2 separate regions of the Homo sapiens genome follow, and region 2 is linked to region 1. The links come from fine-mapping of genetic effects on gene expression. A gene starts in region 1. The other region holds a variant in brackets. All regions are shown on one strand. Distances are between the middles of the regions. Region 1 holds the start of PCDHGA2 (protocadherin gamma subfamily A, 2). Region 2 holds the start of PCDHGA7 (protocadherin gamma subfamily A, 7).

Evidence for each region. PIP is the estimated chance that this variant, and not a neighbour inherited with it, causes the effect.
Region 2: its variant is the best candidate, but not a certain one, in a credible set for the expression of PCDHGA2 in esophagus muscle (GTEx, PIP 0.71).

Annotation. Positions count from the first base shown.
Region 1 is chr5:141,327,924-141,344,350 of GRCh38, forward strand. It overlaps PCDHGA2 (protocadherin gamma subfamily A, 2), which reads left to right and starts at 10,837. Exons shown (of 4, transcript NM_018915.4): 1 at 10,837-13,472. The coding sequence starts at 11,049. It overlaps PCDHGA1 (protocadherin gamma subfamily A, 1), which reads left to right and starts at 2,591. Exons shown (of 4, transcript NM_018912.3): 1 at 2,591-5,182. The coding sequence starts at 2,762. PCDHGA3 (protocadherin gamma subfamily A, 3) reads left to right here and starts at 15,906. Exons shown (of 4, transcript NM_018916.4): 1 at 15,906-16,427. The coding sequence starts at 16,111. It also overlaps PCDHG@. RefSeq lists a silencer at 5,747-5,976.
Region 2 is chr5:141,377,147-141,393,573 of GRCh38, forward strand. The region is part of intron 1 of PCDHGA1 (protocadherin gamma subfamily A, 1); the gene reads left to right. The region is part of intron 1 of PCDHGA2 (protocadherin gamma subfamily A, 2); the gene reads left to right. All of the region lies in intron 1 of PCDHGA3 (protocadherin gamma subfamily A, 3), which reads left to right. All of the region lies in intron 1 of PCDHGB1 (protocadherin gamma subfamily B, 1), which reads left to right. It also overlaps PCDHGA4, PCDHGB2, PCDHGA5, PCDHGB3, PCDHGA6 and PCDHGA7, and 3 more genes. The variant G/T (reference allele first, on the strand shown) is at 5,064.

The DNA.
Region 1 (16,427 bases):
TTTTGGGTGACTGGGAACACTGCCCAGCACCTCCATCACATGCTTTAGCGCTTCCCACCCTAACTTAGGGTCCCATATGCCTCCTGTTTCTTCTTGACCAGTGACCTGCCACTGTGGGCACTGTCATTCTACATGTCAGTGAGTGCAGAGTGCTATGGTTACCATGCAGACTATCTTTGAGCTGACTCTGCAGGCCAGTGACCAGGGTTCAACTTGCTCAGTGTCATCCTGAACCTGCATGTGATGGTGGATGACCATTGCAAAAATGCAAGGACACTATGCCAGGAGTTGCAGCCAAGTGGGGCCCTCTTTGATGCTGCACCACTCACAATGCAACCCAGCTATCCCATCACCAAAGTGGACACCAGCTGGGGCATAAAGGCTGACTGTCCTATCATGTGCTTCAGGCCAGCTAATGTGGCTCTTCAAACTAGGGATGTGCACGAGCTAGATGCGTGCCGTGTCACTGTGGGTAACAGAGATGCAACCTGCCAAGGTTTGTTGGTCACCGTGGTCAATGGTGAATCATCACGCTGAAACATCACCTGGTTGCTGCTCATAGTTTGCAGGAGTTGCTACCAGACCTCAGCAATCGCCCAGCACCCAACAGCAGGCAGCAGACAGCACCCAACAGCTGGCGATGGCCGTTGCCTTGATCTCCATGCTGTTTCTCCTCAGTGTGACTCTGGCCATCTCTCTGAACCTGCAATGCCCCCTATAGCTCCATTGCCTGGGGCTGTTTTCAGCTGGATCTCTGGTCCAAGCCCGGATATGGAGTTGTCTCCAACTTAAAGAAAGGAAATTTGCCCTGTTCCTACAACGTATGTGTGGTTTTAGATATTTTTAAAATCTTAATTTCTTTAACTCAAGAAACAGCTTTGAACCAGGTATTCTCTGCAGTGCCAGCAATGAAGCTTTGTTTTATTTTTGTTTTTGTAGAAACGGGGTTCACTATATTGACCAAGCTGGTCTCAAACTCCTGGCCTCAAGTAATCTGCCCACCTTGGCCTCCCAAAGTGCTGGGATTGCAGGCGTGAGCCACTGTGTGTGGGCAGCAATGAAGCTTTAAATGTTGCATTTGATTCAAATGTATTTGTGTGATATTTTAACATTTTTATTTTATACTTACCATCCTTTTATAAATCACTCCTGCGTGTTTTTGGTTGCTGAAAGTAGGGAGCTCTACAGGTTTACTTACTAGTTCTTATGTATATTTTAATTTACCTCATTAGCTCACAATTTCTTTGGGGAAAAGTTTATGCCTATTAATGTGTATTCTGAAAAGTTACATTCTCTGTTAAAGAGTTACTTCCTTGCAATATTGAAGATGATTTATTGCACCTTTAAATTTCTACTCTTTGGCTCCATGTACTTGTCTTTGAGAAGCTGAGAAACTGTAGATTTGGTTAAGAACTAAAGTTCTCTTTCCAAAAACTATTATTGAGACCTTTCATTGTTTTCTTTCTTTCCTCATTTTTAACTTTTCTCAGTCATGGTGTCCATGGGTTGGCTGGCCGAATTTGTTCCTGAAATTATCAGACTCTGGAGTACAGATAGCATGCTTCTCTAACTTTGGGGTAAAGATAAGTAAGTCACTCTAAGCCTGAGACATTTTAATTAGTAACCCTTTGCTAATAGTGCAGTGATTAAAAAAAAAAGAAGGCCACATCCTCAACTGGTTAAAAAATACTGTTAAGAGAAAACCAACTTCTCTTGGAGAAAATATTAAGTGCGATTATAGAGGAATACATATTATAAGAGCCTATCTAAAAATAAAGATGAGACCATTTTTCTTTTCAGCTGTGAAGAATAATATCATAGACTTTGTCTCTGAAATTTGAAATCTAAATTATATATTCATGTGACTTTTCAATGAAATTCCAAGAGCCCAGTTTTATTTTTTTCAAAATATATTGCCTTTGGTGAATCTTAAGAATTTTTTAAAAACCCACATAATGCAAAGACACTTCAAAAAAAAAAAAGAGGAAAAATAAGGATAGGGTTAAACCATGCTCTTCAAAATCCCAAGGTTTCTGATAAATATTCAAATCATAATGGGAAGGAAATGGGATGGTATGATTTTTTTAAAGTCTAGCTTATATTCTAAAAGATTATTTTTCCCTCTAATACTTTTCACCCTCCAGTCAAAGGGGAGCTGCTCTATGTGGCCTGGGAAATTACCAAGTGGTCAAACTTTACTACAGAAAAAGTGGAGAGATGATTTTGTCCTCATTGTAATGTTAGGTTTTTACTATAATTCCCTGAATAGCAAACTTGGAAAGCAGATAACATGGGAATACTTGGATTCTCCTGTATATTTCAATTTGGTGACATTTAGGCACATTTAAAGAAGTGAACATATAGTTTCTCTTTTTCATACATATATTGTAGAATTATTTCCTTGACAATAGACTAAAACTTAAGAAAATAACAAGTTAATGAGAAGGTTTTCAGTATTTGCTAGGAATGCAGTAACTGGTTAGGACTGTGGGCGCCGCTGTTCACTAATCTGGTAGATACAGGCAGTACACACAGGTCAGGAGGAGGAAAAAAAAAAAAAAGAAAAAGAAAAAAGCTCTCGTGCCTCTTAGAACCTCCATAACCGCCAGATTGAAAACTGACTGTCCAAGACTGCCTAAATCCTACTTCTGGATGACTCTCCAGTCAGAATTCTCCTGAAAATTGGGTTAATTTCAGCTCAGAAAAGCAGAAACGATACCCTTGGTACTGGACTGGAAGAAAACTACGAAGTGAGAGAGCCATGAAGATTCAGAAAAAGCTGACTGGCTGCAGCAGGCTGATGCTTCTGTGTCTTTCTCTGGAGCTGCTGTTGGAAGCTGGGGCTGGGAATATTCACTACTCAGTGCCGGAAGAGACAGACAAAGGTTCCTTCGTAGGCAACATCGCCAAGGACCTAGGGCTGCAACCCCAGGAGCTGGCAGATGGCGGAGTCCGCATCGTCTCCAGAGGTAGGATGCCGCTTTTCGCTCTGAATCCTAGAAGTGGCAGCTTGATCACCGCGCGCAGGATAGACCGGGAGGAGCTCTGCGCTCAGAGCATGCCGTGTCTCGTGAGTTTTAATATCCTTGTTGAGGATAAAATGAAGCTTTTTCCTGTTGAAGTAGAAATAATTGATATTAATGACAACACTCCCCAATTCCAGTTAGAGGAACTGGAGTTTAAAATGAATGAAATAACGACTCCAGGTACCAGAGTCTCATTGCCTTTTGGGCAAGACCTTGATGTGGGTATGAACTCACTCCAGAGCTACCAACTCAGCTCTAACCCTCATTTCTCCCTGGATGTGCAACAGGGAGCCGATGGGCCTCAACATCCAGAGATGGTGCTGCAGAGTCCCTTAGACAGAGAAGAAGAAGCTGTCCACCACCTCATCCTCACAGCTTCTGATGGGGGTGAACCAGTCCGTTCAGGGACCCTCAGAATTTACATTCAGGTGGTGGATGCAAATGACAATCCTCCAGCATTTACTCAGGCACAATACCATATAAATGTCCCCGAAAACGTGCCGCTGGGTACTCAGCTGCTCATGGTAAATGCCACTGACCCTGATGAGGGAGCCAATGGGGAAGTAACGTACTCCTTTCACAATGTAGACCACAGAGTGGCCCAAATATTTCGTTTAGATTCTTACACAGGAGAAATATCAAATAAAGAACCACTAGATTTCGAAGAATACAAAATGTATTCAATGGAAGTTCAAGCCCAGGATGGTGCGGGGCTCATGGCTAAAGTTAAGGTACTGATCAAAGTTTTGGATGTAAATGATAATGCCCCAGAAGTGACCATCACCTCTGTCACCACTGCAGTTCCAGAAAACTTTCCTCCTGGGACCATAATTGCTCTTATCAGTGTGCATGACCAGGACTCAGGAGACAATGGCTACACCACATGTTTCATTCCTGGAAATTTACCCTTTAAATTGGAAAAGTTAGTTGATAATTATTACCGTTTAGTGACTGAAAGAACACTGGACAGAGAACTTATCTCTGGGTACAACATCACAATAACAGCAATAGACCAAGGAACTCCAGCTCTATCTACTGAAACTCACATTTCACTACTAGTGACAGATATCAATGACAACTCCCCAGTCTTCCATCAGGACTCCTACTCTGCCTACATTCCCGAAAACAACCCCAGAGGAGCCTCCATCTTCTCTGTGAGGGCCCACGACTTGGACAGCAATGAGAATGCACAAATCACTTACTCCCTAATAGAGGACACTATCCAGGGGGCACCCCTATCTGCCTACCTCTCCATCAACTCCGACACTGGGGTCCTGTATGCGCTGCGATCCTTCGACTATGAGCAGTTCCGGGACATGCAACTGAAAGTGATGGCGCGGGACAGTGGGGATCCGCCCCTCAGCAGCAACGTGTCTCTCAGCCTATTCCTGCTGGACCAGAACGACAACGCGCCCGAGATCCTGTACCCCGCCCTCCCCACAGATGGTTCTACCGGCGTGGAGCTGGCGCCCCTCTCCGCAGAGCCCGGCTACCTGGTGACCAAGGTGGTGGCGGTGGACAGAGACTCGGGCCAGAACGCCTGGCTGTCCTACCGCCTGCTCAAGGCCAGCGAGCCGGGACTCTTCTCGGTGGGTCTGCACACGGGCGAGGTGCGCACGGCGCGAGCCCTGCTGGACAGAGACGCGCTCAAGCAGAGTCTCGTGGTGGCCGTCCAGGACCACGGCCAGCCCCCGCTCTCCGCCACTGTCACGCTCACCGTGGCCGTGGCCGACAGGATCTCCGACATCCTGGCCGACCTGGGCAGCCTCGAGCCCTCCGCCAAACCCAACGATTCGGACCTCACTCTGTACCTGGTGGTGGCGGCGGCCGCGGTCTCCTGCGTCTTCCTGGCCTTCGTCATCGTGCTGCTGGCGCACAGGCTGCGGCGCTGGCACAAGTCACGTCTGCTACAGGCTTCGGGAGGCGGCTTAGCGAGCATGCCCGGTTCGCACTTTGTGGGCGTGGACGGGGTTCGGGCTTTCCTGCAGACCTATTCCCACGAGGTCTCCCTCACTGCGGACTCGCGGAAGAGCCACCTGATTTTCCCCCAGCCCAACTATGCGGACACACTCATCAGCCAGGAGAGCTGTGAGAAAAAGGGTTTTCTATCAGCACCCCAGTCTTTACTTGAAGACAAAAAGGAACCATTTTCTCAGGTAAACTTTTGTGATGAATGTATCAGCTATCTAGAGAAAAATAATTCTTGATTTAACTTACTAGCGTTCGCTCTTTGCTACAGATAGTTCTTCTAACCCATGTATCTTTGTAGCTTTTTATTACAAGTCCTGCAAAATCACGATTGAGTCTACACGTTCATATGCAGGTATATTTATAATTGTTCTTGCACTGAAAAGGAGACTGTGATCATAATGTAGGTGGTTGGGTTGAAGGTATGTGTGAGATGCCATCTCTGTTTGGAAAGAGCACTGCATTAGAAACGGCGATCTAGCTTCTAACATTTTCTTACTTGCCTCTGGGCTAAAAGGTTTGATTAGAAAAGGCTCACCAATATTTAAATGACTAACACTATTTTCAAATTTTCTTTTTATAAGTACCTGCTAATCTACCCCTGAATTTAATGTAGATGTCATCTGTCAGGACACTGTGATAGTTTATTTGGGGACATTTGAAGAGGTGAAGATTGTCTAAAGTAGTATTTTTAGTTGTGTTCATATAAGATTATAGAGATCTATATAAACTGCAATTTTAAATTATTGTTGAATATTTTAGCCTTTTATTCTATCTTTATTATCAGATTTTTTTGGTTTTGAGATGGGGTCATGCTAGAGTGCAGTGGCATGATCATGGCTCACTGCAGCCACTACCTCCTGGGCTCAAGCGATCCTCCCACCTCAGCCTCTCAAAGTGCTGATATTACAGGTGTGAGCTGTGGTGCCTGTACTGAAGAATACGTCTATTTAAGTAATGTATGAAGTAACAAAATGAACAACACAAAATTTATCATGCAACTTGAGAAATATCTTTGAAGCCTCCTGACTTATACATTATACCTGTAATGAAATCAGCTAACAAAAATCAAGTATATATCCTATTTTAATGTGTGTTAACTTTTCAGAAGAAAAAAAAAGTATGGTCGGGGAGTAAGTCCATGCTTTGATGTATTTACTCTGCTCCAATAAAATACAGAGATACATAAAATATAAGAGGAAAGCAAAAGCAAAGTGGTGAGCTAGTCTAAAGCCATGTGAGTTATAGTCTTGGACTTAAAAGCAGAAATTGAAGGTTAGGAAACTGCCTCCAGCAATGTAATAGGGACAGAAGTGCTTCAGACTAGATAAATATCTGGACCAGGCTTACTGCCTGAATCCAAAATAAGCAATGAGGCCCTTCAGCTGGTTAAAAAGGAAAAGAAAGATGCATTAACATGCTGCCTAGCTGGGCGCAGTGGCTCACGTCTGTATTTCCAACAATTTGAGAGGCTGAGGCGGAAAGATCCTTGGAGCCCTGGAGTTCAAGACCAGCCGGACAGGGCGGCCTGCGACTGTAGTCCCAGCTACGCGGGGCGGGGAGGGGCGGGGCGGGGCGGGGCAGGAGCTGACGTGGGAGGATCCCTTGAGCCCAGGAAGTCAAGGCTTCAGCGAACCGTGATCGCGCCACTGCCCTCCAGCCTGGGCGACAGAGCCACACCCTGTTAAATAAATAAATATAATAATAAAAGCTGTTTCCCAATTCCGGTGGTTATAACTTTCTTCGTAAGCTGTGTAGACCAAGAGAGAGAGACAGACACGGATGCTGGATAGAGACAGCGAACACCAAGTATCTCATATGTGAGCTGTGGTATCCAGAATATCACTGCTGTGCATCATTAAAGCGTCATTAAGAGACCTAGTTATGGCCTGGGACCTGAGGTCAGATAGAAACTATTTCAAAACCATTACAAATGAGCACTGAACCCAGGAGGGAAGGAGAGAGGGATATAGTGTAGAAGAGAAAAAAACAAACTAAAACTAAAAACAAACAGAGCTCTTCCACTAAAAATAAATATACAAACCAAAATTTCAAAACACACTTGTCTCGTAGAATTTATTGTTACTAGTGAGAAACTTTCTGTCAACACACTGTTATTTTTTAAGGTAATCTCTGTTTTCTCTCTGGTAACTATTGAAGACTTTCTCTCATTCTTGCTGTGTGTCTGTTGCATTTTTATTTTTATTTTTTGCTTGGTACCAAGAGTATACTCTCAATTGATAACTAAGTTATCTCACTTCTGGACTTTCTCAGCTCTTATAATCATAATTTTTTTTCTGTGTATATACAAGTGAGCTACATTTACCTATTAAAGGACAAATATTACAAAACTGGTTGATTTTTAAAATCCATATTCTAATAATACACGTGCTTAAAATAAAAATACACTGAAACAGTGAAACTAAATATATATGTACACACACAAAAAAGAAAGTCATGTTAATGTAACAACAAAGTCATATTTAAGGTAACAAACACAAATTGTGATTTTAAAAAATGAACTGATTATAGTTGTAAAAAGAGCAGATGATCAAAAGGATATAAAAATATAAGCTTCTATTACTGAAAAATATAGCTTAGAAAATACCGGAATATTTAAACATAATTCCATAAGAAATAATAGACCCCACAGGAAGAAAGTTAGTTAACATAAAGAAGATTTGAACAACATAATTTAGAAGCTTGATCTATTAGGATTCTAATAGATCCGTTCTGCACACAACAAATATGGAATAGTCATCCTTGAACAAGCAGACAATCTACAAGTTTATTACCTAGTCATTACAAAAAAGGGTTCAGCAAATTGCAAAGTACCAATAATATACTTGCCTTACAACACATACTTAATCACAAAGCAAACATTTAAAAATAGAAAAGGGAAAAAGTTTGGATATTTACATCTACACCCTTAAATAACTCTTGGATTTCAAAAATCACAATGACAATGAAAACTACTCAGAAAAAAAGGACTTAAATATTCTTTATTAAAAATTGTGAGATGCAACTAAAACTAATTAGGAGTAAGTTTATAGACAAATGCAATAATTTTTTTAAAAGCAAACAAAATTATTTAAAATACATGAATTTAGCTTGCCATTCAAGAAGTAAGATAAAAAACATACAATGAGTATATACTAAAATAAAATGATGGAAAAAATAACAAAGAGTTACATTTTTGAAATGCAACCATGGAAGAGTTCTGAGGATGAAATAATGGAAGCAGACAATAAATGTAATAAAACCAGTGGGGAGAAAATGAAAATTCTGTCAAGTCTAACGTTAGGACTCATGTAAGAGAGCCAGGCACAATGGCACACCTATAATCCCAGGTACTGAGTAGGCTGAGGCAGTAGGATTGCTTGAGCCCAGGAGTTTGAATCCAGCCGGGGCAGTATAACAAGACCCAATCTCTATAAAACAAAAAAACACAAACACAAACACAAAAATAAAAATAAAAAACAAAAGCAAAATATACCATAGTAGCTCTACAAGAAAACATGGTGAGTTGGTATCAATTATTTCCAATATATTTTTCTTCAGTCTTGTAAGAGGAATGGATGAAAGTAAAAATGAGAAAATTTCAATAAGGAAGGAGCCAAAAGGCAAACAGATTAAAGTGTCACCAGAAATGGGCAATTCCACTTATGCCACATACAAAAATTAATTCAAAATGGATCAAAGAAGCAATATTCAGAAGCAATAAAACCCTTTTAGTTATTATGTTTAAGAACTAAAACTATACAACTCTTAGAAGAAAACAGGAGGAAACCTTCATAACATTGATTTTTGGCAATGATTTCTTGGATATGACACCAAAAGCACAAGCAACAAAAGAAAAAAATTGTATACTGGACTTTATCACAGTTAAAAACTATATGCAGCAAAGAACAATATCAATAGAGTGAAAAGGCAGCCCACAGAAAGAGAGAAAATGTTTCCAAATCATGTATCTGAGAATGGATATCCAGAATAAAGAACTCGAACTCAACAACAAAGAATCCCAAACAATTGGATGTTAAAATGAGCAAAGGACTTGAATAGACATTTCTCCAAAGATGATATACAAATGGCCAAAACCATATGAAACAATGTTCAACATCACTAGTCATTAGGGAAATGCAAATCAAAACCATAATGAGATACTACTCCACATTCATTAGAATTGCTGTCATAAAAGAAAAGAAAAGAAATGTTAACAAGAATATGGAGAAATTGGAATTCTTGTGCATTGCTGGTGAATATAAAATGACACAACTGCTGTGGAAAATGGTATGGTGACTCCTCAAAAATTTAAACATAGAATTACCATATAATCCAGCAATTCCACTCTGGTTATTACCCAAAAGAAGTGAAAATAGGGACTTCAACAGATATTTGTACACCTATGTTTATGGCATCATTAGTCACAATAGTTGAAAAGTGGAAGTAACCCAAGTGTCCATTGACAGATGAATGGGTAAATAAAAAGTGGTTCACACATACAATGGGCTGTTATTTAGCCTTAAAAAGGAAGGGAATTCTGTTACATGCTACAATATGGACGAACTTCAAAGACATGATATCAAGTGAAATAAACCTGTTATAAAATGACAAATACTGTATGATTCCTCATATATGAAGTTCCTAGATTAGTCAAATTCATAGAGAAAAAAGGTAGAATGGTAGTTGCCAGGGACTGGGTGAAAGGCAATGGGGAGTTGCTATTTAATAAGTACAGAGTTTCAGTTGGGGAGGATGAAAAAGTTCTGGAAGTGGATGGTGGTAATGGTCACACCAGAATGTAATTTGAATGTACTTAATGTCACAGAATTGTATGCTTGACTATGGTCAAAATGGTAAAGATGAAACAAGAGTAAGAAGACATCCACTGCATTGTATTTTACACCCTTGGAAAATGAATATCAGAAAAAGAACTTGACAACCTCAAACAATTTTGAGTGACTGATTCCTAGTGTGGTGAAAAACCCCTTCCGGCTCTAGCTTTATCAAATAGACCTGCTTTCTGTTTCTGTAATGTTCCATGCTGTCTCTTACCTTCAAGCATTTGTTCAGAGGTTCTAGAACACTTCTTCAGCCTTTTTCTTGATTCAATCCTACTTTTTATGATTCAGCTTCAATCATGCCCTCAAAAAGACTTTTCTGACCCCAAATCTAGACTGGATACCCCTCCTAGGTATTCCTCCATCACCCAGTGTTTCCTACCTCATATCACAGCAGTTACCATACTCTATTATACTCTCTTTACTTTCTTATGTCCTCCTCCAACCTTCACGCTTGAGACCAGGGCCTGTGTTTATCATGTTCACCATTTCTAGCTCCAGCTGCAATCATGCAAAGTGGGAGGCACATGTACCCAATTAAGTGTCTGATGATTCAATAATTTAAAGGCAGATTTTGAAGGTAAATGCAAAGCCATCAACCATAAACGTTCAAAATATATAACCTTAGAAGAAAACGTAGCTAACGTTTCTTAATTGATCTTACTGCTTCTGATTATACAATAAGAGATGGAAGATGTTTGGAGCAAGGGCAGTGGTGGCATTGATTAATGCCTTGAGCAGTCAATAATACTTTCCTAGCAACTATTATCAAGATCATGTTCATTTATACCATTCTTATTAATCCTGATAAAAAGATTCCTGTTTTGAAAGATCTAATTCTAGGGTATCTTAGAGCTGTAAGATTCTTTAAAGCGCCTTGAAAGTCAACAAAGGCAAACAAACAAGAAGTAACTTAGGTTTTCCTGAGCAGGTGCAGAAATTATTTAGGCCTCTGAGCGTCGCTGTTGACCACCTAAGGAGTAAAAGGCAGCGAGACATCCAATCCAGCAATACGGCTCCCACAGCACAAGGGGGTGGAGGTTTGGCCCTAAAGCTTCAGGACACCAAAGAAATTCAGTCGAACAGCCCACCAGTTCTCTCCATAGGGACCTGGGTCCCGTGAATGCTGGTTATCTCACACCCTGAGGAATAAAGATTGGAATCCGCACTGGATGCTGGAAGTTGACTCGGAGAAAATTGCGACAGGAGGGAAATGGCGGCTCTGCAAAAGTTGCCACACTGCAGAAAGCTGGTCCTGCTGTGCTTCCTTTTGGCGACCCTGTGGGAGGCCAGGGCCGGGCAGATTCGCTATTCTGTGCGGGAAGAGATCGACAGAGGCTCCTTCGTAGGCAACATCGCCAAGGACTTGGGTTTGGAGCCCCTGGCACTGGCAGAGCAGGGAGTCCGCATCGTCTCCAGAGGTAGGTCCCAGCTCTTTGCTCTGAACCCGCGAAGCGGCAGCTTGGTCACTGCGAACAGGATAGACCGGGAGGAGCTCTGCGCTCAGAGCGCACCCTGTCTGTTGAATTTTAACATTCTGCTGGAGGATAAATTGACTATTTATTCAGTAGAGGTGGAAATAACAGATATTAACGATAATGCCCCTCGCTTTGGAGTAGAGGAACTGGAGCTAAAAATCAGTGAAACCACTACGCCAGGATTCCGGATTCCTCTTAAGAATGCGCATGATGCAGACGTAGGTGAGAACGCCCTTCAGAAGTACGCACTCAACCCAAATGACCACTTCTCCCTGGACGTGCGAAGGGGAGCTGATGGGAACAAGTACCCAGAACTGGTGCTGGAGCGCTCTCTGGACCGCGAGGAAGAGGCTGTTCACCACCTCGTTCTCGTGGCTTCTGATGGGGGTGACCCAGTGCTATCTGGCACCTCCCGCATCTGCGTGAAGGTCCTGGATGCGAACGACAATGCGCCTGTTTTTACACAGCCCGAGTACCGCATAAGCATTCCGGAGAATACGCTCGTGGGCACCCGGATACTCACGGTGACCGCCACTGACGCAGATGAGGGCTACTACGCTCAAGTGGTATATTTTCTAGAGAAAAGCCCTGGAGAAACCTCAGAGGTATTTGAGCTTAAGTCAACATCTGGAGAACTGACAATCATAAAAGATCTAGATTATGAGGATGCTACATTCCATGAAATTGATATTGAAGCTCAGGATGGTCCGGGCCTTCTAACCAGAGCGAAGGTTATCGTCACGGTTCTGGATGTGAATGACAATGCCCCAGAATTTTACATGACATCTGCTACTAGCTCAGTTTCTGAAGACTCTCTTCCAGGAACCATAATTGGGCTTTTTAATGTACATGATAGAGACTCTGGGCAGAACGCATTCACCACCTGTTCACTCCCCGAGGATCTTCCTTTTAAGTTAGAAAAGTCAGTAGACAATTACTACCGACTGGTTACAACCAGAGCCCTTGACAGGGAACAGTTTTCCTTTTACAACATCACTCTAACCGCTAAAGATGGAGGGAACCCCTCCCTGTCCACGGATGCTCACATTTTGCTCCAGGTGGCAGACATCAACGACAACGCACCCGCCTTCTCCCGCACATCCTACTCCACCTACATTCCCGAAAACAACCCCAGAGGAGCCTCTGTCTTCTCAGTGACGGCCCATGACCCCGACAGCAACGACAATGCTCATGTAACTTACTCTTTCGCGGAGGACACTGTTCAGGGGGCACCCTTATCCTCTTACATCTCTATCAACTCCGACACTGGAGTACTCTATGCACTGCGCTCCTTTGATTATGAGCAGTTGCGAGACTTGCAAGTGTGGGTGATAGCGCGGGACAGCGGGAACCCTCCACTCAGTAGCAATGTATCATTAAGCCTGTTCGTGCTGGACCAGAACGACAACGCGCCCGAGATCCTGTACCCTGCCTTCCCCACAGACGGTTCCACTGGCGTGGAGCTGGCGCCCCGCTCCGCAGAGCCCGGCTACCTGGTGACCAAGGTGGTGGCGGTGGACAGAGACTCGGGCCAGAACGCCTGGCTGTCTTACCACCTGCTCAAGGCCAGCGAGCCGGGACTCTTCTCGGTGGGTCTGCACACGGGCGAGGTGCGCACGGCGCGAGCCCTGCTGGACAGAGACGCGCTCAAGCAGAGCCTCGTGGTGGCCATCCAGGACCACGGCCAGCCCCCTCTCTCCGCCACTGTCACGCTCACCGTGGCCGTGGCCGACAGGATCCCCGACATCCTGGCCGACCTGGGCAGCCTCGAGCCCTCCGCCATACCCAACGATTCGGACCTCACTCTGTACCTGGTGGTGGCGGTGGCCGCGGTCTCCTGCGTCTTCCTGGCCTTCGTCATCGTGTTGCTGGCGCACAGGCTGCGGCGCTGGCACAAGTCACGCCTGCTGCAGGCTTCAGGAGGCAGCTTGACAGGCATGCAGAGCTCGCACTTTGTGGGCGTGGACGGGGTTCGGGCTTTCCTGCAGACCTATTCCCACGAGGTCTCCCTCACTGCGGACTCGCGGAAGAGCCACCTGATTTTCCCCCAGCCCAACTATGCGGACACGCTCATCAGCCAGGAGAGCTGTGAGAAAAAGGATTTTTTATCAGCGCCTCAATCTCTACTCGAAGAAGAAAGAGAAGAAACGTTTTCTCAGGTAATCTATCTTTTCACAACATACGTACTAGCTAGTTTGCTGAAGTAATTCACTTACTTGTTTACTATATCTATTTTGTTCCCCATATTTCCTTGAGGGTAGAGTCAAGTTTTAGGAAGTGAGTCTTGGTGAATTATTTCTTGGTAGGTCTTAGTGTTCACAGGCTGTAAGAGGAAGAAGAGACGTGAGAATCTTTGTGCAATGAATGTAAACCAGGAGTTAATAGATAAGATTATCCAAAGAGCACTGCATTAGGAACTAGGGTGTCTGGTTTCTTATACTTTCTTCTCCATCCCTGGGCAAATCATCTCATCCACCCAGATCAACAATTTTTTCTTTGTTAAAAATATAAAGATTGGAGTTTATGTTTACTCAAGTCCTTTCTTCTTTTAAGTTATGACTCTTACTCTATATTTGAATCTGTATATGAACAGTGAAACATGTTAGTTGGCTAGTTCTTTCTCATTCAGTCTTAATACATTTCTTTCAGTTTGGCAGCAAAATTGTTTTCCTTAACTTGCATGCCCTTCCCTGTTAAAAATATGGAAATTTAGAAATATACATTCCTTACAGTGTTTCAGGAAGGTATGTCATATTATTTTGGCTTAGTTTTAAAAATCACATTAACCTCTAAGCTATATGCTTCTTGAAGAAGTGACTGACTTATCATCTGCTCTATAATAAAGCTGTAGAGTGGTAATAAACAGGTTTCTCCTTTTTTTTTATCTTTCTCATACGTGGGAACCATACTGTATTTTAATCTTTAAAATAATATATATCCTCAATATAGTTTTGCTTAAAGAAAAGATACAAAAGATTCATATCATACAATTGCCCAGAACCAACTTCTTTATACATCTCTCTTCTCAAGGTTTCTACTCACAATAGCTGCTAGAAATGTTCCCAATCCCTCACCCAATCCCAGTGCCCCTCTGATCAATTTTCTTTTCCCATTCCTCTTCCTATATTGGCTTTTAGTATGTTGGTTATGTATTTAATAACAGAGAATAATAAGCACACTAATGTTCTATGTAACTGGCATCATTTTTTATTTTTATTTGAAAATTATCATGTACCAATTGAGCCTTTTATTGAATGATACCATATTTCTCAAAGTGCTGTGATTCTTTCCGTTGCATTTGATCAAGAAAAAATTTTCTGAGACAAGGTGTTGTTTTGGTTACTATTACATAATTGTCTATGAGTAAAATTGGAACTCACTGTGGAATAATATGTCATAATAGCTTTACTTGTAAGTGAATAATAAAGTATAAACAGGAAAATTAAAGCAAAGTTATTTTTAGTGTGTGTAGTAACTCCACAAGAATAAATGTCTTATGCATAGATATGTAATGCATCATGATTGAAACGACAAATATATTGTATTTATATTTCTGTGCTTGGAAACTTATGGGGAAAGAGATTCTGGAACATAAAAGCTTATTTCTACTAGTTTCAGTTGGTTTTGAAAAAACATCCTTACAGTCTAGATTTAAACAAAGGAAACTTCTTTCAGTACCCTGAAGGTCTGTGATTTCTCTCTCACACCTAGGCATTGTCATGCTGTTCTCTCCCACATCCAGGCCTTTTCACTGATCCACTCCTCTCATGTTTCCTGGGAAAGCGTTTGCTAACATTAAAGGCCCAATTGAAGGCCCCCCTAACCCCCTTGGCTTCTCCCATTATGGTAATTATCTCAGTACACTGCAATTCCCTGTTTGCTTTTATATCCTTATAATCTCTGTGAAGGAAGCTACTGTGTCTATATTGTTCACCTTAAATCCCCAAACATATTGTCTGATGCCTAATTATGTGTTTGTTTAATGAATATTAAATAACAACAAATATCGAAACTAAGTTATCAGGTCACCAAGAACAAACTTAAAGAAATATAATGTATAAATATGGCTGATTTCTGTGTGTTTCTTTTCTTTTTTTCCTTGTCTCAGCTCTTAGAGAGTTAAGAGTATAGAGAGGGAAAGGTCAAAGAGGAGGTGGATATCTTATCAAATAACCCTGATAAATGTAGTAAGTATAAGAATAAACACATTATCAAGGTTCAGTGGTGGAAGAACAAGTGGTGGTCATGTCTTTTAATAGTTGTGTTGGTCCTTACGGCCAGTTCTTTGTTACTGTGTGTTTCTTAAACTGAACAATTCAAAAAAGTTAACTCCACTATGTTTGAAGCAATATTGGTGGCATTAAGGTTAGTGCATGGATTCCCAAGAAAGATAACTTGAGGTGACACTGTTTAACATATATCGATTCAATTATGTTCAATCAACACTAGTCCTCTTATCTCTGACAAGAAGGATTTCAGATCTTGGATAATTCAAAAATAATAATGTGTCTGAGAGGATGCAGTAAACGGTTAGGCCTCTTAGTGTCGCTGTTGACCACTCAAGAAGGAGAACGCAGCTGGAGAACTAGTCCACCATTTCCTTGCTCCTAAAATGCAAAGAACCAGCAAATCAGACTCAGAAGATCCGGGGCGGCTGCCAACCTCACCTCTTAGTCAACCAGCTGTTTGACCTGTGAATTAGGCCCGTAAAAGACTTCGTTTCTTGAGAAAATAAGATTGGAGTCCGTCGTAGGAAACTGGAACCGAATTCAGAGAAAGCGATTCACCGAAAAGGAAATGACCAATTGCCTGAGTTTCCGAAATGGCAGAGGACTGGCCCTGCTGTGCGCGCTCCTGGGGACGCTGTGCGAAACAGGATCCGGTCAGATCCGCTACTCGGTGTCTGAGGAGCTAGATAAAGGTTCCTTCGTGGGCAACATCGCTAACGACCTGGGGCTAGAGCCCCGGGAGCTGGCGGAGCGCGGAGTCCGCATCGTCTCCAGAGGTAGGACGCAGCTTTTCTCTCTGAATCCGCAAAGCGGCAGCTTGGTCACCGCGGAGAGGATAGACCGGGAGGAGCTCTGCGCTCAGATCCCGCTGTGTCTGGTAAAAAT
Region 2 (16,427 bases), 49 kb after region 1:
GTCCTAGTTTTTCTTTACCTTTCTCTTCTTGGCAAACTATTTGTGTCTTGGATTGAGTACATCTCGTTTCTTAGGTTTTTTCCTACTATGTGACATTTGTAAGGTTCTTTCTTTTTCTAATGTGGGAAAAAAAATAACCTTAATTTAGGTCAGTGTTAAAGATCAAGATCTTGGTTTTAGCTAGCATGGTGGTTCACGCCTGTAATCCCACCTCTTCAGGAGGCTGAGGCAGGAGGATCCCTTGAGACCAGGAGTTTGAGACCAGCCTGGGTGACTCTGTCTCTACCAAAAAGAAAAAAAAGTAGCCAGATGTGTGGCGTACACCTGTAGTCCCAGCTACTCGAGAAGCTCTGATAGGAGGATTGCTTAAGTCCAGGGGTATGAGGCTGCAGTGAGATATAATTGTGTCACTGCACCCTAGCCTGGGAGACAGAATGAGACTTTTTCTCTCTCTCTCTCAAAAAAAAAAAAAGATTTTGTTTTTTCTCAGTGTTACTTGATAACTATAAACGACAGACGTTCATACAAGAGATCTTTCACCTTTACTACTTAGGAATCAAAAATTATTTTTGAAAAGATAAGAATCATTGGTAACTGCAGCAGGGGACACCAGATCTTTGGTGTTAAAAGACCTGAATAACATTCCTGTAACTATCTGTTATTTACTTGGGCCAGTTACAATCGCCATTATCTTCCAATTAAAATTAAGATTTAAAAGACTTCTCTTATCAGAGATAGGATCCCCCTCTGTTGCCCAGTCTGGAGTAAAAATCCACCTGTAACTGCTGCTTATAGAGTGTGTATCCAGGGCAACTTGAATCTATGTTCCTGGGTTGCAATCCTAAAGCTTGGCTCAAATAAGCTCTACTTATATTATTTTTTAAAACAAGACTTTCCTTATCTATCTGACTCAAATTCTAAGAAAATAATTTTATAACTTTTTTTCAAACTCTAAAGCAGCATAGTGAACACGTATTTGTTGACATCACCATTATTATAATTATTGGGTTGTTAACAATAACTAAGCACCGATGCTGTGTGCCTACTACAGTGTCTTTTGCATACTGTGTGCCTGATAGTATTTAAGAGTGAAAATGGCCGGGTGCGGTGGCTCATGCCTGTAATCCCAACACTTTGGGAGGCCAAGGCAGGCATCTCACGAAGTCAGGAGTTCGAGACCAGCCTGACCAACATGGTGAAACCCCGTCTCTACTAAAAATACAAAAATTAGCCAGGTGGGGTGGCATGGGCCTGTAATCGCAGCTACTCGGGAGGCTGAGGCAGGAGAATCGCTTGAACCCATGAGGCAGAGGTTGCAGTGAGCCAAGATCGTGCCACTGCACTCCAGTCTGGGTGACAGAGCGAGACTCTGTCTCAAAAAATAATAATGATAATTAATAAATAAAGAGTGAACATGAATTTTAAAACATGCTCGGTAGTGTCTGCTTACAGGACATATCTCTAAAAATAGATGACTGACTGGTGAATGGGAGAACAAATGTTAATGAGGTTCAAATAAAAATTTAAATATTTTAGCATTTTAACCCAGACAATAAGGCTTTCATCATATAGGAACTCTTTATTGAAATATTTCAAGAAAAAAGGGATTATCATTTAGAAGACTGATTAGTCTTATTTATTATGACTGAAATGTGCAAACAGAATCATTGTTTCATGAACAGAAAACAGCAGAGTTTTTGACTGTCAATGATGTTCGAATAGAAAATGGATCACTAAGGAGATAGGAGATTCTGTTATCGACAGTCTTCAAAAGTAAGTTGATGGCCCTGGAATGAATGGAGTACAGGGGATTCTCTAATTTGATGACTTGTTGAACTACATTATAGTCAAGATTTTTCTCCAGTCATGAGTTGGAAGATTCTACAATCTGGTGGTATTATAGAATGGATTGGCCACTTGTGCATCTGAATTTGTTATGAATGTGTAAGAAAAAAGCAATTGAGAAGATACCTTGAAAATAAATGAGAACCTCCTTTGTAACCTGACTTTGTCAGTCTTCTTAAAGATAACATTGAGTTGATGTGTTTTTAAATAAGCTGCTAAGAGTAATATGTGTTTTTCTGAACCAATATTGTGGTATTTACATTTAAGGAATTGTTATAGATTTATTTATTTCAAGTTTCCAAAGGTATATACCTAAACAAGAGATCTAATCATACACATCTTCAAAGCTCATTTTCTTGTATCTTTGTGATATAATTTGATAAAATAACAATTTTAAACAACTTGAATCTTGGATATTAGTCTCATGAGTTAGATGGGCTGTTATACATATGATTATTTCATAAACTCTGAAAGTGTGAATGTTATTTTACTATACTACCAATTTGGGATGTTAAACTACATCTTGAGCATTTGTTGTTATAGGGAAAGCTCACTAACTACTTTTCATGGAGATCAGGCTGGTTTATTTTATTCTCTTATTACCTGTGACCATTTCATTTAAACAAATAAAATATTTCTCTGATGGAAAAACTACCAACTTCTACTCTCACAAAAGTCATTCACTCATGTGGACTGACCAACTGTTAAACATCCTGGCAGTCATGGAATTTGCTAAGTTATGGCTAAATGAGGTTCTTTAATCCACCTGCAATACAGATCATTAATAATAAGATAGGCTATCTGAGGTTTTGAGAGTTCAGTATAGAATTTTGAAGCATCAGGAAAAAAAACTACCAAATTATTGTCTTATTCTTATTTTATGGTCTGTGAAAGCCTCTTTTTTTTTTTTTTTTTTTTTTTTTTTTTTGTCAGAGTCTTGCTCTGTCTCCCAGGCTGGAATGCAGTGGTGTGATCTCTGCTCACTGCAACTTCCTCCTCCTGGGTTCAAGCGATTCTCCTGCCTCAGCCTCCCAAGTAGCTGGGATTACAGGTGCATGCCACCATGCCTAGCTAATTTTCATACTTTTAGTAGAGATGGGGTTTTACCATGATGGCCAGGCTGGTCTCAAACTCCTGACCTTAAGTGATCCACCCGCCTCAGCCTCTCAAAGGGCTGGGATTACAGGCATGAGCCACTGAGCCCGGCCTGAAAGGCATTCATTTCTGATCAGGCTTCTGTTGAGGTGGCAATTGTCAAAGGGGAAGGAGTAAAATCTCAGAGGAGAAACATTGGAAGATACCTATATCTTTGCTTGAGAATGAAAATCTAAATGGAACTTCAAAGAACTGTTTTGTTGTTTGTTTTTTAGAAAAAAAAGTCCCAAAAAAGAAAAGAGAGAAGATAATCAATTCGATGCCCAGGAAGCCAAATAGACTTTACATAGAATTCTTTTTAATGCAACCAAACAAATGGTCAGGATTCTTCCCAATATCTCAGTCAACAATAATATACACTCTTTAAACTATGAAATGATTTCAATTTGATACAATGAGCTTATGTTAGATTTTATTAAACATATCTTGGCGGTCTAGTAAAGATCTTTAATATTTAATTTTATGATGTTCGATAACTTAGAAAATGTGAATGCTAGAGACAATGAAGCCATTTACTCCATAGGGTATGTATGCTTTGTGTTCGGAGTAGTCTATAATTTAATTTAACTAGCTCTTATTTCCTTTTCTCCAAAGAAGGTACCAAGACACTATAAATTAATTGAGACTTTTTTAAAACAGTAGAATAAGAAACAAATGTGAGATGAAACTATGAATTTTGAGGCATCAGGTAAAAATGGATCAAGACATTGAGAGCTATAACCTCCAAACATGAAAGTTTGTTTGAAAATATCTACAAGTGCTTACATTGTTTAATAATCATACACTTTGCTTGCCTCAACAAGAAGTTCAAAAGTACTATTAAACAAATAGAATTTAACTCCAGTTTACAGAATTCATCTATAATACCTCTATTAGTTCCTTTAAACAAAATTTATCTACTTTGTGAATGCAAAGATAACTATGGATTATTTTGATAGATCAAAACAGAATGTCCTTCAAAGTGTTCCCTGTATTCTGGAGCAATGCCACCAGAAAGCAGAAATAGGTTACTTAGGAGCCTCCCACAAAACGAAGTTAAGCTTTCTTAGTGTTAGTTCTGGATTCTCCTCCTGGTTCCACCAACTACTCTCCAGGACCTAGAAGAATTTACAAACCAAGACTGTTTCTTGCCAGGTCTTTATTCCAGAGCAGGTCATTCTCTTTTATTCTGCAACTATGTGAAAGGAGCTTTCTTTTCTTTCTGCTAGCAGAGGGTAGCCTCGGATCCATCAATAATTTAGTTTTACTCTATCAACATCAGTGGAGAGACGAGTACCTCTAAGGATCCTGTCAGGACAGTCCTGCATTTTGCTCAAATGCTGTCTAGAGATCCCTGTTTTCTCAATTACACTAGAATAGAGTAGGATGAAGATTTGAATTGCATACTAGGATGAAGACTTGAATTGAATTGCATAATGAAAAGAATCAGCCAATCCATTATCCAGTTTCTTATGAATTCACAGCCCAGTAGGATCTCTGCAGATTTCTGCCTTCTGTAGAAAATGGGTTGCTTCTATAGCTGATTGCTGCAGCCAAGACAAACAACGATTTCTTTCTTTTTTTCTCACAAGACTGGGAGTGAGAATATTTGGATTCCGACATTGTTCTACTACTATATAATCAATAATCAGGAACAAGGCAAGGCAATTCCCTCTTTCTTTCTTTCTTTCTTTCTTCTTCTTTTTTTTTTTTTTTTTTTTTTGGCAGAGTTTTGCTCTTGTTGTCCAGGCTGGAGTGCAATGGTGTGATCTCGGCTCACCACAACCTCCACCTCCCGGGTTCAAGCGATTTTCCTGCCTCAGCCTCCTGAGTAGCTGGGATTACAGGCGCGCGCCACCACGCCCGGATAATTTTGTATTTTTAGTAGAGACGGGGTTTCTCCATGTTGGTCAGGCTGGTCTCAAGCTCCCGACCTCAGGTGATCCGCCCGCCTCGGCCTCACAAAGTGTGGGATTACAGGCGTGAGCAACAGCACCTGGCCCCCCCTCTCATTTTTTAAACGGTTAAAATGAAGGTGTTAGACCGTCTCTAAGGTTCTATACAATCAAAAATTTATTAAAATA[G/T]GTCTATATATTTTACAACAATTTTGACTTTCTGAATCTTGCATCATGGTGTCTAGAACATATGTGTTCAATTAATACTGAATTAATTAAAATTTATATACACTGATGTAAATATTTTCTAAGTAAAATCTTTCATATGTATTTAAATAAAATTTACCTTTTTGCCTTCAATAACTGATTTTCCCATGTGCAATAACGTGTGAGTCAGTGCCCAAAAGAGTCACTTGAAAGTTGCAAGGCAAAGCAGTTTTTTAAAAATTATCTAAGATTATCAAACACCGGTCCATGAACACTGTTGCATTAATTCAGTGTCTTAAAATGGATTTTTAATTATCAGGGATATCTAGAGCAAAGAAATCTAACAGGGAAATTTTGAAAGATGAAACAATTTTCTATGAAATCAGTGTATTGTGTGCATCAATGTGGTGCAGTAACTTAGTAAGGACTCACAGCGCCGCTGTTCACCAACCAGGGAAAAATGGTGCGAGAGATCCCACAGAAACCACCGAGTTTTACAGCACAGAGAAACGACAGATTGCGATAAGCCCTCTTCCAGGCTGCACTAAACTCAAGCCTCTATCCTGCTGGATTCTGAGCTCCCCTTCCTAAGACAGAGGGGTCCACCCGGATACACCCGCATTCTGAAGCACTTCCCGAGATCGGCGCCTAAGCAAGAGAAGCAGGACGACTATGGCGGCTCAGCCGAGGGGCGGGGACTACAGAGGATTCTTCCTGCTCTCCATCCTCCTGGGGACCCCCTGGGAAGCCTGGGCAGGACGTATTCTCTACTCCGTGTCGGAGGAGACGGACAAAGGGTCCTTTGTGGGAGACATCGCCAAGGACCTGGGGCTGGAGCCCCGGGAGCTGGCGGAGCGCGGAGTCCGCATCATCTCCAGAGGTAGGACGCAGCTTTTCGCCCTGAACCAGCGCAGCGGCAGCTTGGTCACTGCGGGCAGGATAGACCGGGAAGAGATCTGCGCTCAGAGTGCGCGGTGTCTGGTAAACTTTAACATCCTGATGGAAGATAAAATGAATCTTTACCCTATAGACGTGGAAATAATAGATATTAATGACAACGTTCCAAGATTCTTGACGGAAGAAATAAATGTAAAAATAATGGAGAATACAGCTCCTGGGGTTCGGTTTCCGTTAAGCGAGGCTGGGGATCCAGATGTGGGCACGAACTCCCTCCAGAGTTACCAGCTCAGCCCCAATCGCCACTTCTCCCTGGCTGTGCAAAGTGGAGACGATGAAACTAAGTACCCGGAACTGGTGCTGGAGCGGGTGCTGGACCGGGAGGAAGAGCGGGTTCACCACCTGGTCCTCACAGCCTCTGATGGCGGCGACCCGCCCCGATCCAGCACCGCCCACATCCAGGTGACAGTGGTGGATGTGAATGACCACACGCCTGTCTTCTCTCTGCCTCAGTACCAAGTAACTGTCCCCGAGAATGTGCCAGTGGGTACAAGACTGCTCACGGTACATGCTATCGACCTGGACGAGGGAGTCAATGGGGAAGTGACATATTCTTTTCGGAAAATAACTCCTAAACTTCCAAAGATGTTTCATCTGAACTCGCTTACAGGAGAAATATCAACTTTAGAAGGATTAGATTATGAAGAAACTGCCTTCTATGAAATGGAGGTTCAGGCTCAAGATGGTCCTGGTAGTCTGACAAAGGCAAAAGTACTGATCACAGTTTTAGATGTAAATGATAATGCTCCAGAAGTGACTATGACGTCTTTAAGTAGCTCAATCCCTGAAGACACACCTCTTGGGACAGTCATTGCTCTTTTCTACCTACAAGACAGAGATTCTGGAAAGAATGGTGAGGTGACCTGCACCATTCCAGAAAACCTACCTTTTAAATTAGAAAAATCAATAGATAATTATTATAGATTGGTCACAACCAAAAACTTGGACCGGGAAACACTCTCTTTGTATAACATCACACTGAAAGCCACAGATGGTGGAACTCCTCCCTTGTCCAGGGAAACTCACATATTCATGCAGGTGGCAGACACCAACGATAACCCACCCACCTTCCCCCACTCATCCTACTCAGTCTACATCGCTGAGAACAACCCCAGAGGGGCCTCCATTTTCTTAGTGACTGCACAGGACCACGACAGTGAGGATAATGCCCAGATCACTTATTCCTTGGCCGAAGACACCATCCAGGGGGCTCCAGTGTCCTCCTATGTCTCCATAAACTCTGACACTGGAGTCCTGTACGCGCTGCAATCCTTTGATTATGAGCAGTTGAGAGAACTACAACTAAGAGTGACTGCACATGACAGCGGGGACCCGCCTCTCAGCAGCAACATGTCACTGAGCCTGTTCGTGCTGGACCAGAATGACAACCCGCCCGAGATCCTGTACCCGGCCCTCCCCACAGATGGTTCTACTGGCATGGAGCTGGCACCCCGCTCCGCAGAGCCCGGCTACCTGGTGACCAAGGTGGTGGCGGTGGACAAAGATTCAGGCCAGAACGCCTGGCTGTCATACCTCCTGCTTAAGGCCAGCGAGCCAGGACTCTTTGCGGTTGGGCTGTACACGGGCGAGGTGCGCACGGCTCGGGCCCTGCTGGACAGAGATGCCCTCAAGCAGAGCCTCGTGGTGGCCGTCCAGGACCACGGTCAGCCTCCTCTGTCAGCCACCGTCACACTCACCGTGGCTGTGGCTGACAGCATCCCCGAAGTCTTGGCCGACCTGGGCAGCCTTGAGCCCTCCGACGGTCCTTACAACTATGACCTCACGTTGTACCTGGTGGTGGCGGTGGCCACAGTCTCCTGCGTCTTCCTAGCCTTCGTCCTCGTACTGCTGGCGCTCAGGCTGCGGCGCTGGCACAAGTCACGCCTGCTGCAGGCTTCAGAAGGTGGCTTGGCGAACGTGCCCACCTCGCACTTTGTGGGCATGGACGGGGTGCAGGCTTTCCTGCAGACCTATTCCCATGAGGTCTCCCTCACCGCGGACTCTCGGAAGAGTCACCTGATCTTCCCCCAGCCCAACTATGTAGACATGCTCATCAGCCAGGAGAGCTGTGAGAAAAATGATTCTTTGCTAACATCCGTAGATTTTCAGGAATGTAAAGAAAACCTGCCAAGTATTCAGGTGAGCCCAGCCCTTCCTTTATTTCCATGAGGAATTTATTTGCATGATATTTCTCTATTATTTTGCAAAACAAATGTTTTGAAAATAGGGATTTAAAAAACTTTATAGAGGTAAAAATGAGTTTACCAGTTTCCTTCAGTGGTGACACTTTAATATAGAACACATAGGATATAGTATTTCTTTAGTGAAAGCCTATGGACAAGATTATGAATATGTGGACTATCACATTTTATAATTTCCACCTACTTTCCAATCTATGTTCCAACCTACTTTCTTAACTCATATATTTTATACATTGGAATGAATCGAGTCTTTCATATTGCACAAGGTTAGCAGGAATAAAACACACCTCAGCTGTCTTCTCAGGATTCTCTTTAGCATTCAAATATGTAAAAGGTTCTGAAAGATTTCTTCCATGTGAAGATTTTTTTCTGTGGCTGATTCTGCCTCCATGTACCTCAGCTTGGTGGTCCTAAAAAATCTTGATTGCTTCTTGACCTATTTACAGTATAATCATTTATTAATGGGGTGGTAGTAGAAGGTTGGATTTATGCCTAAAGAATGAAATGTGTGTGTATCACACTTCACTAAGATCTATATCAAAGACAGACATCAAGTCTAATGCCACACTAAAGGCCATCGGACAAAACCAATAAAATATGTCAAATAAAATGTCATTTTAAGTGTTGTAATTGGCATTTGTGACATAGGCAATTACATGTTTTAACAGAGAATTCCAGTATGTTGTTTTAGTGGTACAGCCAGATGAAGTGTGTCTGTGGGCTATCAAAGTGGGAGATTGGGGATACTGGCTTTGTTTCAACTGTCTCACGTACTCAAACCTTAGACCATCTTATGTACACAGATCCTAGACCAGTAGTTGATTTTATTTATTAGGTCTACTGAAAAATTCAGTTGGAAATAACCCAATCTGGGATTAACTACTTCCATATTCTTTTGTATAACATTTTAGTAAAGCTCAGTATATCAAGTGATTGTCATCCAGAAGGGGTGGATGACAAGGTAATCTTGATTCCAGAGACCTTTGAGTATTAATTAAAAACACACTTTTAGCCAGGTATGGTGTTGCAAGCTGTAGCCCACCTGCATGGGAGGCTGAGGCAAGAGGACAGCTTGAACCCAAGAATTGGAGGCCCACCTAGATAATATAACAAGACTCTGTCTCTTCAAAAAAAGACTCTTTTTAGACTAGTGTTGTATTTGGTAGTATTTTGCACATGATAGACTCTGTACAATAGTGTGGGGGATACATTTTTTTTTTTTGACATGGAGTCTCGCTCTGTCACCCAGGCTGGATACATTTTACAAGTTCTGCAGTGTTCACATTTCAGATGTACAATCACTTGGGGTAGAAGACAATGTTGCTGACACCAACAATGTTACTGAGGGAAGATCCTATGGCAGAACTACGGTTATAAGGTATTTTGTAAAAGAAAATCTCCTGACCAAAATTTATTAGATGCATAAAATTGTTTTTAAGCAATGGAGAGACATAATCACTAAACTCAGTGAGCTATTGCAATCAAACTTTCCAGGGATTGTTTCCTTCAATTCAGAGGTCACCAAGGAATGTAAAATAAGTGCAGAGGTAGGAAGCAGTGCTTCAGTGCAGCAGATCTCAGTGACTTTGTGTTTTGAGGCTATGTATTATCCCCCTGATAACTTTGAAGATGAATGTTGTATTTCATAACCAGTAAAATAATTGTGTAATGAGGAGAGGAGTAGGCTACTGCCTGTGATCATCGAAATGAGAATCACATAATATTCCTGTAATGAAATCACTGAAACTATTGGGAAGGGGGTGTATTTGAAGATAAGTATAAATTGCACCTTCTAAAAGGCAATTTTGGTATTACTGATACTCTCCGGAAAAAGTTGAAATAAATCAACTTGGAGGTACTTAGAAAAGTGGAGAAAATGTTAGGAACAATGAAAGAAAGATAAAATGTATCCAGTATATTTCTAATGAGTAAGTATGGAAAATTACTGTACTCTGAGACGGTTTAGGCCAAGTCTGTGTTATGGCTATCTTTATATAGATAGTGCATGTTTGAAGATTGGGGAAAGCTTATGTCAATAAATGTTTATGTACTTAATCTACATGATTTGCCTAAAAATCCTCAAAGTTGGGATGAAGGCATTCCTAAGAGTACATTTTTAGACGTCATTAAATATACAGACGTATCCACGTAGTTTTTGTTCTTTCAGTTAGGCACACAATTATAATTATTGCACTGGTTAACTTGAAGCAGCAGAGGCTGTAGTTTCCTAGTGCTGACTCTGGGCGCCGCTGTTGGCCAAAGTGGAGAGCTTGGCGCTCCAGATCTCCTCGCGCAGCCGCAGCGCGCTTTCCAGGGCAGCCCCAGCTCAGACTCCCCAGCGCCAGCCTTTACACCGCTTCCTCCTCGGAAAAAGAAGAATTTTTTCTTGAACTGGAACTGCAACTAAAGTCCGTTCGGAGATCCAAAAATCTGCAATACAGAGGTTATTTGTAACCCGGCGTCTCCAGGCTGGTGAGCAAGCTGAGGAGAGCAAGAGGGATGGGGAGCGGCGCCGGGGAGCTGGGCCGGGCTGAGAGGCTGCCAGTGCTCTTTCTCTTCCTGCTGTCTTTGTTCTGCCCGGCGCTCTGTGAGCAGATCCGCTACAGGATTCCCGAGGAAATGCCCAAGGGCTCCGTAGTGGGGAACCTCGCCACGGACCTGGGGTTCAGCGTCCAGGAGTTACCGACTCGAAAACTGCGCGTCAGTTCGGAGAAGCCTTACTTCACCGTGAGCGCAGAGAGCGGGGAGTTGCTTGTGAGCAGCAGGCTAGACAGGGAGGAGATATGCGGGAAGAAGCCAGCTTGTGCTCTGGAATTTGAGGCTGTTGCTGAAAATCCACTGAACTTTTATCACGTGAATGTGGAGATCGAGGACATTAATGACCACACGCCAAAATTCACGCAAAATTCCTTTGAGCTGCAAATAAGTGAGTCTGCACAGCCTGGCACACGATTTATATTAGGATCTGCCCATGATGCGGATATTGGTAGCAACACACTGCAGAATTACCAACTCAGTCCCAGTGATCATTTCTCACTGATAAATAAAGAGAAATCAGATGGCAGTAAATACCCTGAGATGGTATTGAAGACACCTTTGGACAGAGAAAAGCAGAAATCCTACCACTTGACTTTGACTGCCTTGGACTTTGGAGCTCCACCCCTAAGCAGCACTGCACAGATACACGTTCTAGTGACTGATGCCAATGATAATGCTCCAGTGTTCAGTCAAGACGTATACAGGGTGAGCCTTTCAGAAAACGTGTACCCGGGGACCACGGTGCTACAGGTGACTGCCACGGACCAGGATGAGGGTGTCAATGCCGAGATTACTTTCTCTTTCAGTGAAGCTAGCCAGATCACCCAATTTGACCTGAACTCTAACACCGGGGAAATTACTGTTTTAAATACATTAGATTTTGAAGAAGTCAAAGAATATTCCATAGTTTTGGAAGCAAGGGACGGTGGAGGAATGATTGCGCAATGCACAGTGGAGGTAGAAGTCATAGATGAAAATGACAACGCCCCAGAAGTGATATTCCAGTCTCTACCCAACCTAATTATGGAGGACGCCGAGCTGGGAACACATATTGCTTTGCTCAAAGTCCGTGACAAGGATTCCAGACACAATGGAGAAGTGACTTGTAAATTGGAAGGTGATGTTCCATTTAAAATATTAACTTCTTCAAGAAACACGTATAAATTAGTGACAGATGCTGTTCTAGACCGCGAGCAGAATCCAGAGTACAATATAACCGTTACGGCAACAGATCGGGGCAAGCCTCCCCTCTCCTCCAGTTCCAGCATCACCCTGCACATTGGTGATGTAAATGACAACGCTCCGGTTTTCTCACAGTCTTCCTATATAGTCCACGTGGCCGAGAACAACCCGCCTGGAGCCTCTATTTCACAAGTCAGGGCTTCTGATCCGGACTTGGGGCCCAACGGCCAAGTCTCTTACTGCATCATGGCCAGTGACCTGGAGCAGCGGGAGCTGTCATCCTACGTGTCCATAAGCGCGGAGAGCGGGGTGGTGTTCGCGCAGCGCGCCTTCGACCACGAGCAGCTGCGCGCCTTCGAACTCACACTGCAGGCCCGCGACCAGGGCTCGCCAGCGCTCAGCGCGAACGTGAGCCTGCGCGTGTTAGTGGACGACCGCAACGACAATGCGCCACGGGTGCTGTACCCCGCGCTGGGTCCCGACGGCTCTGCGCTCTTCGATATGGTGCCGCACGCTGCAGAGCCTGGCTACTTGGTGACCAAGGTAGTGGCGGTGGACGCAGACTCAGGACACAACGCCTGGCTGTCCTACCACGTGCTGCAGGCTAGCGAGCCCGGGCTCTTCAGCCTGGGGCTGCGCACGGGCGAAGTGCGCACAGCGCGTGCCTTAGGCGACAGGGACGCCGTCCGCCAGCGCCTTCTGGTCGCCGTGCGTGACGGTGGACAGCCACCACTCTCGGCCACTGCCACGTTGCACCTGGTCTTCGCCGACAGCTTGCAGGAGGTGCTGCCGGATATCACTGACCGCCCCGACCCCTCTGACCTCCAGGCTGAGCTGCAGTTTTACCTAGTGGTGGCCTTGGCCTTGATCTCAGTGCTCTTCCTCGTGGCCATGATTCTGGCCATTGCCTTGCGCCTGCGACGCTCCTCCAGCCCCGCCTCCTGGAGCTGCTTCCAGCCTGGTCTCTGTGTTAAATCCGAATCCGTGGTTCCCCCCAACTACAGCGAGGGGACTTTGCCTTATTCCTACAATCTATGTGTTGCACATACAGGAAAGACGGAGTTTAATTTCCTAAAATGTAGTGAGCAGTTGAGTTCAGGACAAGACATACTTTGCGGTGATTCATCTGGGGCCTTATTTCCACTTTGTAATTCCAGTGAATTGACTTCCCATCAGGTGAGTTTCCTTTAAGTATAATTTAATGCTCATTGCCTACCCATTTCTCCATATTCACAAGAAAATATACATATTTGCAGGAAAATATATAATTTTTAGATGTCATGGATCATTTTAGGAAAGTTGTAGTCAGTTAAAAAGCTGTCATATCATTCTACAAAGGAGGAGTAAAGTAGGAGCAATTGTGTGGCCCAACATTTGTTTGTTTTTTAGCCAAGCTTAGATTTATAAAGCAATGAGGGTGTGGTTTTAACCACAAAGTGAAAGTGTTAGACAGTTGTTGGCTCTCTCCTAAAAAGTGAATGAGATTTTTCCTATACATTTTCCTTCTTGTTGACTAATATATGATGAATACTTTTTTCAGCTTGGATATACCATAAATATAAAAATAATAAAGCCAAAGAATTTAAGCTAAAATTCAACACTTTTCTTAACTAATTTAACTGGTATGGTCTCCATAGTAGTCCACTGTTTTGTTTCCTGTGTTAACTTCCCTTTTGTTTCAAAAGCTCTTAGAATAAGGAGTCAACTGGATTTTTATGTCCATGGACCCCTTGTGATTATATGCAGTGTACGCTGTGTGTGCGTGTGTGTGTGTGTGTGTGTGAGAGAGATCCTTTTACTTAGAAAAAGGTCTACTATGCTCATTAGAAGATCAAAAGCAGATTCTCCTTACTTGTAACATAGGAGTTTCAGGATTAATCTGTATTCAAGCTCATTCTATATCCTTCATCAAAGAAAAGACAATGTTTTGTGTCTGTTGTCCCTCTCACACACAGCCCTAATATATAATGTGTAACTGCCTTATCTGCAGCCCTAAACTAATATAGCTAGAGGTCTTCTAATCATTCTCCTACCTCTAGGAAAGAAATATAGTCTTGAAAACTGCCAATCTGGTGTGCATACAAAATATATACAAAATACCAAGGAACATTATATGAGCCTTTTGCTAGGTATATCTAAGCAACTGCTTCAGTTAATGGCCACTTTACAAATTGCTGAAAGAAGGAAACGTCTTTCGATTCTTTTTTTTTTCTTTTTTTTTTTTTGAGACAGAGTCTCTGTCTGTTACTCAGGCTGTAGTGCAGTGGCACAATGATAGCTCCCTCCAGCCTCAAACTCCTGGGCTCAAGCATTCCTTCTGCATCAGCCTCCTGACTAGCTGGAACTCAGGCTCATGCCACCAGACCTGGCTAATTTTTCTGTTTTCAGTAGAGAAAATATTTTCTTTCACTAATTTAACTGGTATGGTTTCCATTGTCTACCCAGTTTTCCATATGCATAAGAAAATATATTCACAGGAAAATATAAAGTTTTCAGATTTCATGAGTGGTTTTAAGAAAGTTTTAGTCAGTGAAAAAACTATCATACCAGTCTTCAAAGGAAGGGTGAAATAAGTTCATCTGCTACGTTGCCCAGGCTGGTCTTGAAGGGAAACAGACTTTTTTGTAGTCATACTTATCCTTTGGCTTCTTAGTAAGTATTATATAGTCATTACTTTTTGCAGTTTTTTAGATCAAAGTGTTAATGTAGGTAAAGTTAATTTTAGAATATATGTAAAAGTCAAGTCTGCTTTAAATTTAATCATCTCTTTGGTGAAAGGGATGGGATGGAGCTTTGCTTTTTATCATATATTCATCTGTACCTTTCAAGTATTCAAATAGAAAAATATAAACAATGTAAATAAAATAGCAAAACAATGTAATATCTCATAAAACTGCAATGGTAAAAGCATTTATCCTATTGAAATTCCACAATTTTTATTTGAAAATATTATCGACATGTAATTCAAGTGGCATTTAGAAGAATAATTTAAAAGCAACAACTCTATAGAAAGCTTGTAAAATGATTAAGTAGTTTAAACCAAATAAAACAATTTCTGAGTCAGTCATCTCCAGTAGGTCTATTTTAGTCTCAAGATAAATTCATTTCTGGTGACAACTGAAGTTCTTAGTTATTTGTTAGTATATATTGGAGACATTTACAATAAAGCTTAGAGCACAATGGGAAATGAAAGTATCATGTTTTTTTTAAGACCAAATGTATTGCAGAAATGTGAGTAATTTAATCCGATGCTACAATCTGATCATTCTGATCTAATCTGATCATTTAATAACACTAAATAAAACCTTCATCTCACATTCTTTGGCTGTTTCTTTTAAAATATGGGTTTACGGATAAATCAAATAAATTCAAAACAAAGTAATAAGCAAATGATTTTTTTTTCTCAGTAATCTAGTAGAGTATTACATTTAGAAGTAATCTGTATCTCAGTGCAGTAACTATTTAGGACTGTAAGCGCCGCTGTTCACCTACTGGAAGACAAATGCAACCGAAAACACTCAGATCTCACACCTCACGAAGACCCGCAGATGCCACAAACTAACTGCTGGACTGCAGCGAAACCCGACCCCTGTTTGGAGGCACTCCAGGTTTCCGGAGGATTGTCATCTCCATAGCTGCGGCAAGAAACTAAATAAGACCCATTTATGCACAGTGAAGATTCTGAGAGGATTCTGCAGCAAAACAACAATGGCCGCTCCACAGAGTCGCCCCAGACGCGGCGAGCTGATCCTGCTGTGCGCGCTGCTGGGAACGCTGTGGGAAATCGGGAGGGGACAGATTCGCTACTCTGTGCCAGAAGAGACGGACAAAGGCTCCTTCGTGGGTAATATCTCCAAGGACCTGGGGCTGGACCCCCGGAAGCTGGCGAAGCACGGAGTCCGTATCGTCTCCAGAGGTAGGACGCAGCTCTTTGCTCTGAACCCGCGCAGCGGCAGCTTGATCACCGCGGGCAGGATAGATCGGGAGGAGCTCTGCGCTCAGAGCCCGCGGTGTCTGATAAATATTAACACCCTGGTTGAGGATAAAGGAAAACTCTTTGGGGTAGAAATAGAAATAATTGATATTAACGATAATAACCCAAAATTCCAGGTCGAAGATCTAGAAGTAAAAATTAACGAAATCGCGGTTCCTGGAGCACGTTATCCACTCCCAGAAGCTGTTGACCCGGATGTGGGCGTGAACTCCCTCCAGAGCTACCAGCTCAGCCCCAATCACCACTTCTCCCTGGACGTGCAGACTGGAGACAATGGAGCCATAAACCCAGAGCTGGTGCTGGAGCGCGCCCTGGACAGGGAGGAAGAGGCTGCTCACCACCTGGTCCTCACGGCCTCGGATGGCGGCAAGCCGCCTCGCTCTAGCACAGTGCGCATCCACGTGACAGTGTTGGATACAAATGACAATGCCCCGGTTTTTCCTCACCCGATTTACCGAGTGAAAGTCCTTGAGA